4 linked regions of the Homo sapiens genome follow. The protein of the gene in region 1 purifies or fractionates together with the protein of each later gene. This does not show direct contact. Each region holds a gene or a part of one and is shown on either strand. Other genes may lie near its edges.

Region 1 (2,899 bases):
TTATAGCTTCAAAATTCCAAAGGAAAATGATTTTGAGTCTAAAACCATAACTCAATTTAAAAAACTTTAAATTGAAGATTCAACATTTAATTACTTGAAGATATGCAGCAGCACACCAGAAAACTAATCCTGGGATGCAAGAGAAAGCAATCAGAAGAAAACAGTAAAACTCACAGTGGCCTAATAACTATTTACACATACGCACCAAGATCCCAGGGATTAATCTAAAACTAAAATCGTATCTGATTACATCACAAAAAGAGGCTGAGGTGGGGAAGTGAAACAATGCTAAGGTTACTGACTTAATTGGGAGATGGATGGAAGATGTGGCTACTAATTAACTCTAAACTTAAAGAAAAAAGGTAATCACTAAAGAAATAGCAATAGGTTTAATTACTTCCAAACCACTGGAGGAATAACAAGGAGAAAAAAATAACAAGCCAGTAAGATGACAAAATAAAAACAAGAGAGCATGATATATAGAAAATACAAAGTAAGACAGCCAGGAATAGTCCAAATGTTTTAATAATCTCAATTAATATAAATGTATTAAATTTCCCAGAGCTGGTTTGATTAAGGAAAATAGAAGTCAATTATAGAGGATATGAGAAAAAGTAAAGTATTTCAGTTATAAAAGGCACAACTCACCAATAGTCATGTAATGCTTACATTTCAGAAACTGATTAAACGAACAATAAGATAGGAATGTAGAAGGCAGAAAGTTTGAACAATTAACAAGCTAAATCCAAAAAAACCTGTACCCAAAACAGGCAAAGCACCCCTCTACCCACCCAAAACTCATAGAATATTTACAAATATTGACCATATAATTCCATAAAGTAGAAACCATACAGGCTATATTATATCTCCTTAGAAATTTTAAATACACTTGGAATCTGAAATACCCATTAAAAATAAACAATAGTCACCATAGCTAAAGACTGTCAGACATACAGCCAAGGGAGTACTCAGGAGTATTTTCAGTCCTAAATACATTTATTATCAGGAAACAAGAAAAATGGAAAATAAAACTGTTTCTATAATATACCTTAAGGCAGTGTGGGGATCAACAACATCCCTGGAGATATGGTCATCAATGAAAGTAGTCCAGGAGTCCATGAATTCATTTATTAACCCATAAGCCTATAAAATGTGTATGCTAACTAGTAATAAAAGTACAAACTGTGTTATATTTTAGAATATCAACTCAGTTGTAACACTAGTTACTTCATCCTGAGTTGGTTGGGAATCACATCTTTGAATATATCAAAATTAAACTGAGTTCCTTGAAGTCAGACATGGCCTTATTTATTTGTATACCTTTAATATAGGCACAATAGAGGTACAAAGAGTAAGCACTCAACAGTGTTACATGAATTGAATTAGTTAATGTATAAGGCAGATAATTTCCCAAAATATGGGGCTCACTGGAGGAGTAGGGTGAAACAGAATAAACAGATCTGTATGGTGGGTACAAGGCTGGAAAACACTGGCTAAACATGAATCTTCATCTCAGGTCTGTGACGTCACTAGGGTCACATGCCAGGTGTTCCAAGATTCTGGAGAGGATTTTACCAACATGGAGGAGCTATCAGCTTTCTTACCTTTCTTCCTTGACAGCAAGATTCATGAACTTCAATAATCACAATGTTAGGAAAAGTTAATCTTCAACTATAACAAACTAATTTTTTACAAATTTAGTCCCTTTTAGCTGTATGTCAAAAGGACAGACCAATAGCTACAGCTAGTACAATGACTAGAACACAAGCTCAAATTCCCTGGTATTATAGGAGACAAAAAGATCTCAATAGCTTTCATTTACTTTACAATTTTTAAAAAGCTTCAATTAAGTACTTCAATTTTATCTAAACATAAAGAGGCCCCATCTGTATTAATATTTTAAACATTCAATATTTGAGCTATGTAAGTCGTGCTAGTAGGTGAATTTAAACATGTCTTAAATAAGGAATATTTACATTTCGAAACCTTCTGATTGTATTAATTTGATCTGGTTTATTTTTAAAATATTCCCCCTTGCTACAGAACATCTTCCTTTTCTGCATTAAAAACAAAATGGCTGTATTTCTCTGCCCAACTTTGCTTAGCTGAATCAATCCTTTTAAAAGCTTTCTTCTTTACTGCTAAACCTATCTTCAATTCTTAACTAACACAACATCAGTCATTCTTACATGAGAACAATACATTAAAATAAATACAAAGAAAAAATTCTCCCAGCAAATACTAGATTCAATCCCAACAATACAGACACAGTCTTAAAAAATCAGTTATTTTTTTATTTGCATAGAACCAAAGGAAAGACTTAAAATTCCAACATACATCCTACGAGGCTTACAATTTAATTACAAATCCAATTTTGACGGAAAAAAGGGTTTTGGTTTTCCTCTACTAACGAGGATGATACTGTTTCACATGCTTCAGTTATGTATGCTGAAACACCAGATGCCTATACATCTTTACTTTTCGCAGAATTAGTATCCAGTCCAAAAAAGTCTTTTTTGATGATGTACCGAACACACTGCAAAATCACATTTCTTTCATGTCGAATGTCCGGAGCTAGAAGCTAAAACACAATTTAAAAAAAGATGAGGTAGTAAATAAATTATATCTGGGAAATACAATCTAAAATATTGCATGTACCCTCACCATATAAAGAAGACAGAACAATAAGAAATATGTATTATATTCACTATTTTGCTAAAAAACGATGCAAGAACATGTCCTTTTAATTTATATCAAGACTATCTAGCTTTTTATTTATTTATTTATTTTGAGACGGAGTCTCGCTCTGTTGCCCAGGCTGGAGTGCAGTGGCGGGATCTCAGCTCACTGCAAGCTCCGCCTCCCGGGTTCACGCCATTCTCCTGCCTCAGCCTCCCGA
Region 2 (3,537 bases), on another chromosome or scaffold:
TTTGGGGCCCCCAGTGTCACATAGTGTCCCTTCCACCCTTCTTGTCTCTTCTTGTCGTTCTGCCAGCCCACCTTCCCCACTGCCACCAGCACTGTCCACACAGGGCAAACCATCACTGCATCCAGAAGGCCAGTGCTGTATACACAGCTTGCCAAGGGTTCCCAGCAATGCTGGGGTGGCAGGGCAGAAGCGACCGCCAGGCCAACCACACTCCTCACCCAGAGTCCCCTCCCCATACCTCGGGCACCCTGCAGCCACACCTTTGCTGCTCCCCTGCTTGGCATGCCCTCCCTCCTCACCACCTCTCCAAGTCCTTCTCATCCCCAACGGCAGGAGTTCTTAACCCTTCCGTGAGCCAAGGACCCCTCTGGCAATCTGGTTAATCCTATGGACTCCTTTGAAGTATGTGAAATCAATTACATAGGATGATAAAGGGGACTACTGAGTACTGAAATAAAACTTCATCGACATTTGTGCTTCCTTATGAAACACATTGAACAGCGAGAACTAGCAAGAGATCTAATAAGTAGTGTGATGCTGAAACACTGATAGATGTGAAGTTCAAGATACCTGCAACACTATGAGGTGATGGGAAGGCATCTGTGATTTCTATTGGTGGTAAAGCCATAGGCACTGCTAATGTGACTGAGTGTCATTGCCTACATTCATCATTGAAGGACAAATCAGACGTCCTTCAGTGCTACGGACGGGTCAGTGGTTAGTGAAGATAAAGGTGCAATGTTTTCCAGCCCTGTCTGCTGACCTGCTAAATTCCACCCATGGACTACTCAGGGGCCCTCATGCTGCAAGGCTCAGCCCTAACTCCACTGCCTCGCCCTCCTGTGAGTTCCAACCACATCATGGTAGGCTCTTTCCCCCAGGCCTGAGTTGCCCTCCACAGCCCTGAGCACTTGCTAAGCGCAAGGCATGAACCCCAAATGCTGATCAGATTGAATTTTCCTGCACCTGTCATCCAAAGTGGGGTGAGGGGCTAGGGAACCACTGCTTCCCTCAGCCTCCTGGAAGCTGGTGGCTGGACACTCTTAGGGCCTGCTACGTGGGCCGTGACTGGCAACTACTACGGTGGCTGGTGACTTATGTTCTCCAGATGCCATGCCCGGAGTGGTCCCTCCCTCTTTTGGGCTTTACCAGCTCCGGAAATTAGCTCTCCCCTCCCTGGGCGCATCTATGGGTGTTCTGGTTGGCTGCCCCAATCCCATCACCAGCCCTTCAGGGCAAGGCAGCTCTGAGCCTGCAGCTGACCACAGGGCTACACCGTGCCGGGCCCCGTGCCGGGCCCCGTGCCAGGTGTGTCCTCACCTGCTTCACGTTGTAGCCAGTCTTCGCACTGGTCTCAATGAACATGACGCTCAGTTCTTTGGCGCGCTGCTCCCCCTCCTCGATGGTTATCTGCCTAGAGATGAGGGGAAGGGGGGAAATCAGCTCAGCAGAGAAGCAGACCCTGGCAGATATGAGGAGGGACCCACCCAGCAGGGCAGAGGGAGCCCACTGGGCCCTTGGTCAGTCCTGAAGACAGGCTCTGATCCCAAGGGTCCCTCCCGGGCACCAACCACAGTCTCGCTAGCACAAAGCAGGCACCAGGGAACAGTAGGACACTATCCGCTTCCCCCACTCCTTCCTTTGTGTCTTCTCAGCTTCAAAGCAGGCCCTGGGGTAGGGCTGCCCCATACCTGCCTTTCCCAGTAGTCACTACTGCAGAGCCTGTGCTTATGAAGAGATTCAAGCCAGGCAGTGCCACTCTGGGTGGTATTATCAGTCGCATTTTCCCTGTGAGAACACTAATGCTAAAAGTGTCTCCCCCAGGGCCACAAAGCTACTTAGCAGAGAGGGCTCCATGATGGGGCAGGCAGAAGTGGGTGAGGGTATGAAGGGCCTGGGTACCCTTTGTACTGGGATTTGAGCCCAGTTTTCCTTACTTTAAGGACAGAACTCTAGTAAAGCAGGCTCTAATTCAGATGATTCCTCAGGTGGTCAAGGGACGCTGCAGGAAGCCCACACTGCTTGCTGGAGTCCATGGCCTGTCACTTTATCTGCCCAAGTCAGGGTCATGTAAAATGAGTGGACAATGTACACACATGGCACCTCAGTTCTCCCTGTGCATGGAGGGCAGCATGGAGGAGCCTCTTCAGAGAAAGCTTCATGCCAGACGCAGCCACAAACCAGGCTAAGCAGGCTACGGCCATAGGTTTGTGGTCTGAATGCTCTGCATGCTCACACCTAGGGCCCAGGGCATTCACAGCCCCACGCACATTGGTGCAGACACTTCACAGGCACAGACAGTTCACAGTGCACACGCTGGGGCCTAGAGGACTGCTGTGTCTGGGGCAGGGCTGTGGCCATGGCAGGGCCTTAGACCATGCACTGCTGGGTCAAGCCAGGTGCACAGTGCTCTGTGTAGACAGCAAACGGAGAAGTGCCCCGCCCCTGCCTGGTGGTGGAAGACAGGGCTTCACAGATGAGATACCCATGGATGAGAGTCTACCAGGTGTCCTCAAAGCTCCTAGTGTCTCAAGGGACCTTTTCCGGATGCATGGTCAGAAGCACAGACACACCACCCATGCATCCCAGAGCTCCCTGTCCAGGAGCAGTTACAGAGGAGTGGAGGGTGGCACCCTGCACCTGTGTGCCCTTGCACCTACCTCTTATCAGCCAGGTCCGTCTTGTTGCCCACCAGCATGATGATAACATCACTGCCCCTCTCTGTCCTGACGTCGTCGATCCACTTAGAGGTCTGTTGGAAGGAGTTGAGATCTGGAGGCAGAAAGTGAGGATAAACTGAAAGCCAGGGCCAGCCACCAGTGGGAGATGGGAAGGGGAGGTGTGAGCCAGGAGCAGGAGGGAGGGTGAGCATGTGCCCTCAGATACCCAGGGAGGGGTGTGAGCTCAGTCAACACAGATCAGCTGGGTAGGGCCTTTCAGAGGGAACCGGGCCCTGCCCTGCGGCCCTGGGGAGCCACTTGCACTGTTCAGCCACCCTTTGTGGGAGAGGAATCACCCCATCTGGAAGATCACAGTGTCATGATTTGCCACATGGAATAGTGGCTTTAGGGGCCCACCTGAGAGACCTGACTCTGGGGATTCAGAGTGGAGAGTGAGAACTGGGTCACACGTGTGTGTGCATACACACACACACACACACATGCGCGCGCGACTTGGCAAGTTTGGGAACAGTGAGGGTGGGCAGAGGAGGACACAGCAGCCTCTAGGGAAGGAAGGGCCCTACTGAGTGGTGTCCCCACCATGGGAGCTCAGGAGAGTTTGGGGAAGGCCAGAGGGGTTTCTGAAGAGAACCCTCAGGCTCTGCAGATGAGAGGAGGGGAAAGGTGGCCCCGGGACTAGTCAGGGGAGCCAGGTGCACTCAAAAATCCAGGAGAGACAAGGCCACTTCTGGGCAGCCTGACCCCCCTCAGCTGCCATGATAGGCCTTGCAGGGCAGAGCAGCTATAAGGCAATACCCACCACTCGGCAGCCTGCACACCCAAGGGGAGGGGAGGTAGCTGTCCTCAGAAGCCTCAG
Region 3 (3,537 bases), on another chromosome or scaffold:
AAAAAAAAGTACTCCTTTGGGCAGTATGCTTTTAGAGATTAACAGAAGCACTGCACCAGCTGAACAAATTTAGATCCTGACTTCAGCACAGTCTGGGGCATAGTTAACAAAATAATTGTGATGCCTATACTATCACATTAATGGGCCAAACCAATAAACTGGCTATAATTGAGTCTGGAAATTCTGGTGGTGAGATTCAATTGAATTCAGATTGAAATTATTTAAATTGCTTGAGGGCTAAATAGTCTTGCATATTATATTCATAATTCTATGCATAGTTATTATCCACAATGAAAGCTAGATTATTTTTCCACTGTAACATAACATAAGATAAAATGGAACTTGCTTAGATTTGATTAGCAAAAACTCATTTTTTTCTCTCTTGGCTCTTCAAAACATTTATACTGCTAAACTGTCATTTCCCACACATTGTAGGAATTGTGACAATTGGAGAGGAAAAGAAAATTTGTACTGTCTCTGAGAATTTCTTGAGGATGTGCGAATCTACTGAGGTGAGTGTTTTTACAGCCTTTAATTTTGTCAGAATTTTAGCATTCATTTTTTATTATTTGGATAATGTATTAAAACTAAATCTATATTGACTTTTCCCTTTATTCTATCAGAGGCAATTTTACCTGAAGTAGTGTTATTCAGGAGGAGTAGAGGATAAATAGGAATTAGATGCTCTGCATATTTCAATAAAAATTATAATAACTATTTCAAATTTTCTGGAAACTCATTTTAATGAAGGCTGAAAACATGATGAAGTTGTTTTTAAAGAGAGCATAGCCCTCCTTATATTGTTATAATGTTACTGATGAAAACCATCATTATTAATCATTGTCTCATCTTTATAATGAAATTATGTTATAATGATGAAGTTGAAAGGATTTAAATGATTTGCAGGGGAAAATATATTGTAATAATCTGTTTTAATCAGGTGGGTGATTTATCACAGGCTCGCTTTTATTTAAGATGTACAAAGTCTTGTTTATAAGACAGTAGCAATCTTGACTTCTCTTCTACCTATAACTCTGACACCTTTTGATTCTCTGTGGTTTCCATTGCAGCTGAACATGACCTTCCACTTGTTTATTGTGGCACTTGCTGGAGCTGGGGCAGCAGTCATTGCTATGGTAAGACCTCAAAGCGCTGGTGCTTGGTTTTCAATGTGAATTCCAAAGCTATTTGCTTGTAGAGATGATAAACTATCTCTAAAGTTTGAAGTTCATGTAAAACACATTTATGTCATCAGATTAAAAAAAGTAGGGAAAACAATGGGTAAGTAAGTCAACAACAAGACTAAACCCCAAGAAATATTATTATTACCATATTGAGAACATTAACAAAAATAGTAATTCATTAGGATTTTAGATATTAGATTACTATAAATATAAAAATTATTTCTGTAGCATATATGTACATACCAATGTGACATTGTGAGTAATCTAATCAATTCCTTGATTTACTTTTTTTTCCTTAGCTAAGAACATTAAAAAGCCATATAGAGTCATTTATGAAAAACAAATTAGGTTATTAAAAAAAACAAATGTCAGTAGTTTCAAGTCATGTCTTCTATATCTAATTTGCTTCAGAAATATTAAGAGCCAGTCTTTAGATCTTCTTTTAAGACATCAAGCTTTTACACAATGAGGAGGATCTACCACGTGCCAGAGCCAGTCTCCTCCTTTCTAACTTGGCATGAGTTCCAGTATGCCCACTGGAATGCCAAATATCAACCCTGAGCAAGTGCTCTGAGTGTCAGTAATAGCTTTTGCAGCCAATATCTTCAGTCTTTGTTTGTATCCTTGAGGATGAGTAGTCTAGAGCCCTAGAAGGACTCCCAGTAACCTCACGACTGTGACAGCCGAGTCAATATGTAAAGATGGTGAATGAATTGGAATTTATTTAATTATTTTCCTCATGGTGCCAATATCTATCTAATGTATTGGTGAAAGGAACACTTTCATAAAAAAATGTTTTTCTCTTGTCAGAGACTAAAAATAAGAATGATGAGAAAATACTAATGTGCTAATTAGCCATGTCAGAGTGGTTATTTTACTGATTTCATAAATATTTTGTATTTAATTTGTTTTATTAAAAATGACTTACATATATATTCAATAAAACTATGTCAGTACTAACATGAATTTTTGATGTTTTGTTACTTTAGCGTTGCTCAACATTTTTGATACAGTGACCTCTATATAGAATAAACCTCTATATAGAAATTTTGTTTCAGAACGTGAGACGCTTGATAAGGATCATGTTGGTTGATTAATTGGGGGGATCAAAATAGAACAAAAGCAAAGGCCTTATATTCTCAACCTAAAATTAATGCTAAACTATGCCCTGGGGAAGAATCAGCAAGTTCTGGCCAATGATATACCAAACATTATTGTCCTTAGGAGAAAACATGCTGGTTGTGATATCAGAGGAAACATATGTACCCTTGTGTTCATACACCCATTTCTATGCTGTCAAAAACTTTAATGACACGGGTATGTACAAGCAATATATACCCAGGTACAAGAAGTCTGTGAAGGTATCTTTTAAAAAGTGGACTATAATAAATATTTGTTTGCATTTGCTACATATATGTGCATATAAAATTCTGTCTAAAAATACAGGTATACACTAGTGAAAAACACCTATTTAGACAAATGTTATTTAAATGTCCCTGAAAATGCTTACTCTCAAAACAAATCAACAGATTTTGAGATGATAGAAATTTATATATTATGTATTTCTTAAGCAATCTATGCTTTGCATATACTTAAAGCTATACGTACATTTTATTTAAAACAGAAAGCTTAGAAGATTATTTTTTCAAGTACTAAGCATTATTTGGGGGTTATTTTCTCTGTCTAGAGTCATCACAAAACCCCATACTAGCTTAAATGATTGACCTAAGTATTTCCAATTTATTAGCTCTGATAATGATGTAGGTCTTGGGAGACAGGTAAAATATAACTACTGCTACTGTTCCTGGTACTAATGCTGCTAGTACCAGGAATAATAAAGCAGGGACTTTATTATTAATAATATTTCTTAAAAACTTAATATTAAAAATTGAGAATAGTAATTGTAATGTTATTAATAATATTTCTTAAGAACTTATTCTGTTCTACTCTACTCCATTATTTGTAGAGAAGTTAGGAAGTCCTACATGCTGACAAAGTAAATCGACTTAGCATTGGACCAGATTTCAGTAATCACTGTTCACCTAGCGAGGGACAGTAATAAGCCCTGCAGCTTGGGTTCCCCTTAAGGCCAGAGGAAATGCTTGTAAGAACCATGAGGAAGCACCTGTTTCTGAATTGGAGTGACCTTGAGTTTCAGTATTTCATTCATGCATATATGTATATATATATATATAATATATAAATATTATATATAAATAGATTATATATTTTATATTATATATTATATATTTTTATATATAATATATAAATAGATTATATATTTTTATATTATATATTATATATAGATTATATATTTTTATATTATATATTATATTTTTATATAATATATAAT
Region 4 (3,537 bases), on another chromosome or scaffold:
CAATTGAAGCTAACCTAGGAAATCCATTACTCCATCTTTTTCAACAATTCTCTCTTGTTTTTAAAAGAGCACCATCTATTTAAAATTTCCATTCTCTTTCCAAAATTCCACTCTCCTTTCCACAATATACCTAGCCCTTCAAGCCATGGAAAGCCATTCTAGCTTTAACACCTGCTGATCCATAATGGTAACCCCTTATAGCACTATCCAATAAAGCTTTTTACAATGGAAGTTCACACAAATGTTCTCTCTCTGCACTGTCCAACACAGGAGTGCAGTAGTTTGGGTATTTGTTCCCGTAGATCTTATGTGGAAAGTTGATTCCAAAATTGGAGGTGGGGGCCTAATGGGAGATGTCTGGCCATGGGGATGGAGCATAAATAGATAAATGCAGGGGGTGGGGCAAGTGAGTTCTTGCTCTATTAGCTTTCTCGAAAGCTGGTGGTAAAAAAGAGCCTGGCACCGTCCCTGCTGTCTCTGGCTTTTTCTCTCACCATGCAATTCTGCATATACTGGGTCCCCTTCACGCCATGCCACGAATAGAAGCATTCTGAGGCCCTCTCCAGATGCAAATGTTGGTGCTGTGCTTGTACAGGCTGCAGAACCATGAGCCAAATAAACCTCTTTTTTATGTGTGTGAATTACCAGCCTCAGGCATTCCTTTATAGTAATGCAAAATGAACACAAGGGAACAGTAGTCTTGCATGACTATGGAAGCACTGCAGTGTGGCTAGTGTGACTGAAGAAGTAAATTTTAAATGTTGTTTGGTTGTAGCTAATTTAAATTTAATTTAAAATAGCCACCCTGGCAAGTAGCTACTTGGCTCAGTTCTCTTGTCTCCTCCTTTCTGCCGCCTTCCCCCTCCATCTCCCTCCCACACTGGCTCCAGGGTCACCCTCCTCCCCCAGGATGCCCTTTGCTCCTAGCTTGCCCCAGAGACTTGCTCCATGTGGTCGCCTTGGCCTCACGGCTGTCTGCAAGAAATAACCATATTGGATCAGAACCACAGGGGAAGAAAATCCAGTACAGAGAACTAGGGGGTAGATGGGATATTTGACAGTAAGGGGAAAGACATACCCCAGACCTGAAGCAGCTTGTGCAATGCTGTGAGATGCCACTACCTTCCTTCTGTGTGGATTTATTTAGATATGAAGGTGACTACATATACATAAATACACATACTCATGGGCAGAATATCAATTTAGTTCCTTTTTGTTGTTGCTGTTTTTATTTCTTTTTTTAAAGGATCATAATACCATTTTGAAAACCTAATATGCCCAACTTTTATTCCAGAAGCTCAGGGCTGAATAGCAACTTCAAATCCAGAGAGTCAGCTTCTGCTAGGGGAATTAGGGTTTATGTTTGGTATAATAAACGATCCCAAGATAAATATATTTCTTTCCCTTTTTTTTTTTTTTTGTAATCCAGGATGGTGGTGCATCCTCTTTCCAATACAGAAACACAAGAATCTGGCTCTATTTAGTTTGTCTGATCGCTTTGAAGAGGGGGTCAGTTTGGCTCTGAAAAAACTATGGTCCTCTATTCATTAAAGTGTCGATAATACTCAGTCCAGGCATATCGACAGCGGATTAGCTTGGGCTGAGTCTGTGTAAAAGACCAATGCCTTTTTTAACCCAGCTTGTTTCCAGATCAATACACCCATCAGCATTCGAAAATTAGCCCAAGATGAGATTCCAATACTTGAGGTGGTGTGTCATGCGAGAGGGCACCTAGCTAAGTCACAGATGTAAACACCTAGCAAGGGATTAGACATTTTCCATTAGCTTGGATGTGAGTGAAGATTGATGTAGACTCCATCCTCTCACCCCCTCCCATCATCTCACCCCCAAAAACACCCAGCCGTCTCTCTTGGAGCCCATATAAGATCACCTGGCTCTAATTCTAGCCATTTGCTTCAATAAGCATTTATTAAATGTTCACTTTGTATCAGGCATTCTGCGAGGTGTTCAGGGCAGGGGTGTGGGGGTGTGTGTGAGTGGGGGTGGCTGAAGAAAGAAAATGACAAAAATATGATCCAGTTTTCAAGGAGACATTAGCACTTTTCACAATTCCTTCCACTTTCCAGTTCCATGAGGCCCTGCTTCCTAAAGCAAATATCTCTAATAGTTCCTAGTTCCCAGTCTCTCATTGTCAATGCTAGGCATTCTTTTCTCAACACTAAGTGTGCAGGGGTTGGGGCAGGACAGGAGGGGGGCTGAGCAATAGCTTCCAAACCACCACCTGGTAGAGTATGCAGATGGTGGCACCAGGGCATTCACCAGCCCTGCCCACAGAGTGGAGATTCTCAAGCATTTTTGGCCTCCCTATCCATAATAAAAAATGTATTTTACATTAAAAAATGTACACAAACTGAAACAAAAATCTCACATGGCAATACCTACTCCACTCTTTGTAATACACTCTGATACCTTCTATGCAATTCTATTTTCTTTAAAATTGCTGTTTGCATGCATCAGTTCAAAAAGTATTCATTTATAGAATCATTTTTTAAACAGCCATTGTAATTTCCTTTGGGGAAGAAAGAGTAAGCAAAATATAATAAAAACTTGGCATGACCAAACTTGGGCCACAGCATCAAGGATTCCCATGTCCCCTGGCATACGTTCTGCCCACAGCCAGGTCCAGCATCACCTTGTTCTCATGTGTCCTCCTCTCAGTCCTGCTCACCCTGCCTCACTCAACAGTGCTGATCACGACCCAAGTTCCGCCTTCCCCTACTGTCAAACAGCAGGCCTCCCCTTCCTTCTTCCGGCTCACTTCAGTTCTTCCTTCTCAAGCTGCCTTCCTTCCTATTCTGTCTCTAACCAATCATCCCATAGTTCTTTACCCTTTTCTTGAACACACCGACAAGGGGACTGGTGGAAGGAGCCCCTAGGAGAGGAGTTTGTCACCCTGGAGCTACACGTCCCTGGTTGAAAGGGCCTCGGGATCAGCCTGGGAAAGGGCTCCAGCACTGGATCTGGCATGCCGCTGCTCAGGGGCTATACTGCTGACATCACAAAATAAGATATTTGACCCACTGTAAAAGATGCTCAAAAATTTTAAAAATTACAAAAGTCCTAAAAAAGAGAAAAGAAAGCTCCATAGCTAACACTGAAATAGCACTTGTATGTGCCACGCCCTCTTCTACGTGTTTTCTATGTCAGTACGTTTACAGTTCAATCCTCACGTTGACCCCCTTTACAGAAAGAGAACCCTGAGACACGGTAATAACTTGATTAAGGTCTCACAGCCAGAAAGTGGCCAAGTGTGATGCCAGCTCTTGCTCACTAACTAGGAATCCTTCAACCGGGTTAAGTGTTGTCTGAATGCCCCAGGACTGGTTCTGCCTTGTGGGAAGAGGTGAGCTCCATTCCCAGGGTCTAAGAGAGCATAACCAACACACATATTCTCTCTCTCTCTCTCTCTCTCTCTCACACACACACACACACACACACACACACACACACACACAAACATACAAGGCCTCATGAACTAGGAGTCAGGGGAGGAGAAGAAGGCCAGGAGAGTTGGGA

The links.
Region 2: the proteins of NUFIP1 (region 1) and RAB6B purify together in Homo sapiens (affinity purification with mass spectrometry; 3 studies listed by BioGRID and IntAct, with this or other methods). This does not show direct contact.
Region 3: the proteins of NUFIP1 (region 1) and GPM6A purify together in Homo sapiens (affinity purification with mass spectrometry; 3 studies listed by BioGRID and IntAct, with this or other methods). This does not show direct contact.
Region 4: the proteins of NUFIP1 (region 1) and NTM purify together in Homo sapiens (affinity purification with mass spectrometry; 3 studies listed by BioGRID and IntAct, with this or other methods). This does not show direct contact.

Annotation. Positions count from the first base shown.
Region 1 is NC_000013.11:44,938,742-44,941,640, forward strand, and holds the end of NUFIP1 (FMR1-interacting protein NUFIP1), read right to left. Parts: intron 2,582-2,899; coding exon 2,465-2,581; 3' UTR 508-2,464; downstream 1-507. UniProt on the Homo sapiens protein: Binds RNA.
Region 2 is NC_000003.12:133,836,846-133,840,382, forward strand, and holds part of RAB6B (ras-related protein Rab-6B), read right to left. Parts: intron 2,773-3,537; coding exon 2,661-2,772; intron 1,415-2,660; coding exon 1,321-1,414; intron 1-1,320. UniProt on the Homo sapiens protein: The small GTPases Rab are key regulators of intracellular membrane trafficking, from the formation of transport vesicles to their fusion with membranes. Rabs cycle between active GTP-bound and inactive GDP-bound states.
Region 3 is NC_000004.12:175,637,728-175,641,264, reverse strand, and holds part of GPM6A (neuronal membrane glycoprotein M6-a), read left to right. Parts: intron 1-435; coding exon 436-512; intron 513-1,070; coding exon 1,071-1,136; intron 1,137-3,537. UniProt on the Homo sapiens protein: Involved in neuronal differentiation, including differentiation and migration of neuronal stem cells. Plays a role in neuronal plasticity and is involved in neurite and filopodia outgrowth, filopodia motility and probably synapse formation.
Region 4 is NC_000011.10:132,147,115-132,150,651, reverse strand, and holds part of NTM (neurotrimin isoform 9 precursor), read right to left. Parts: intron 1-3,537.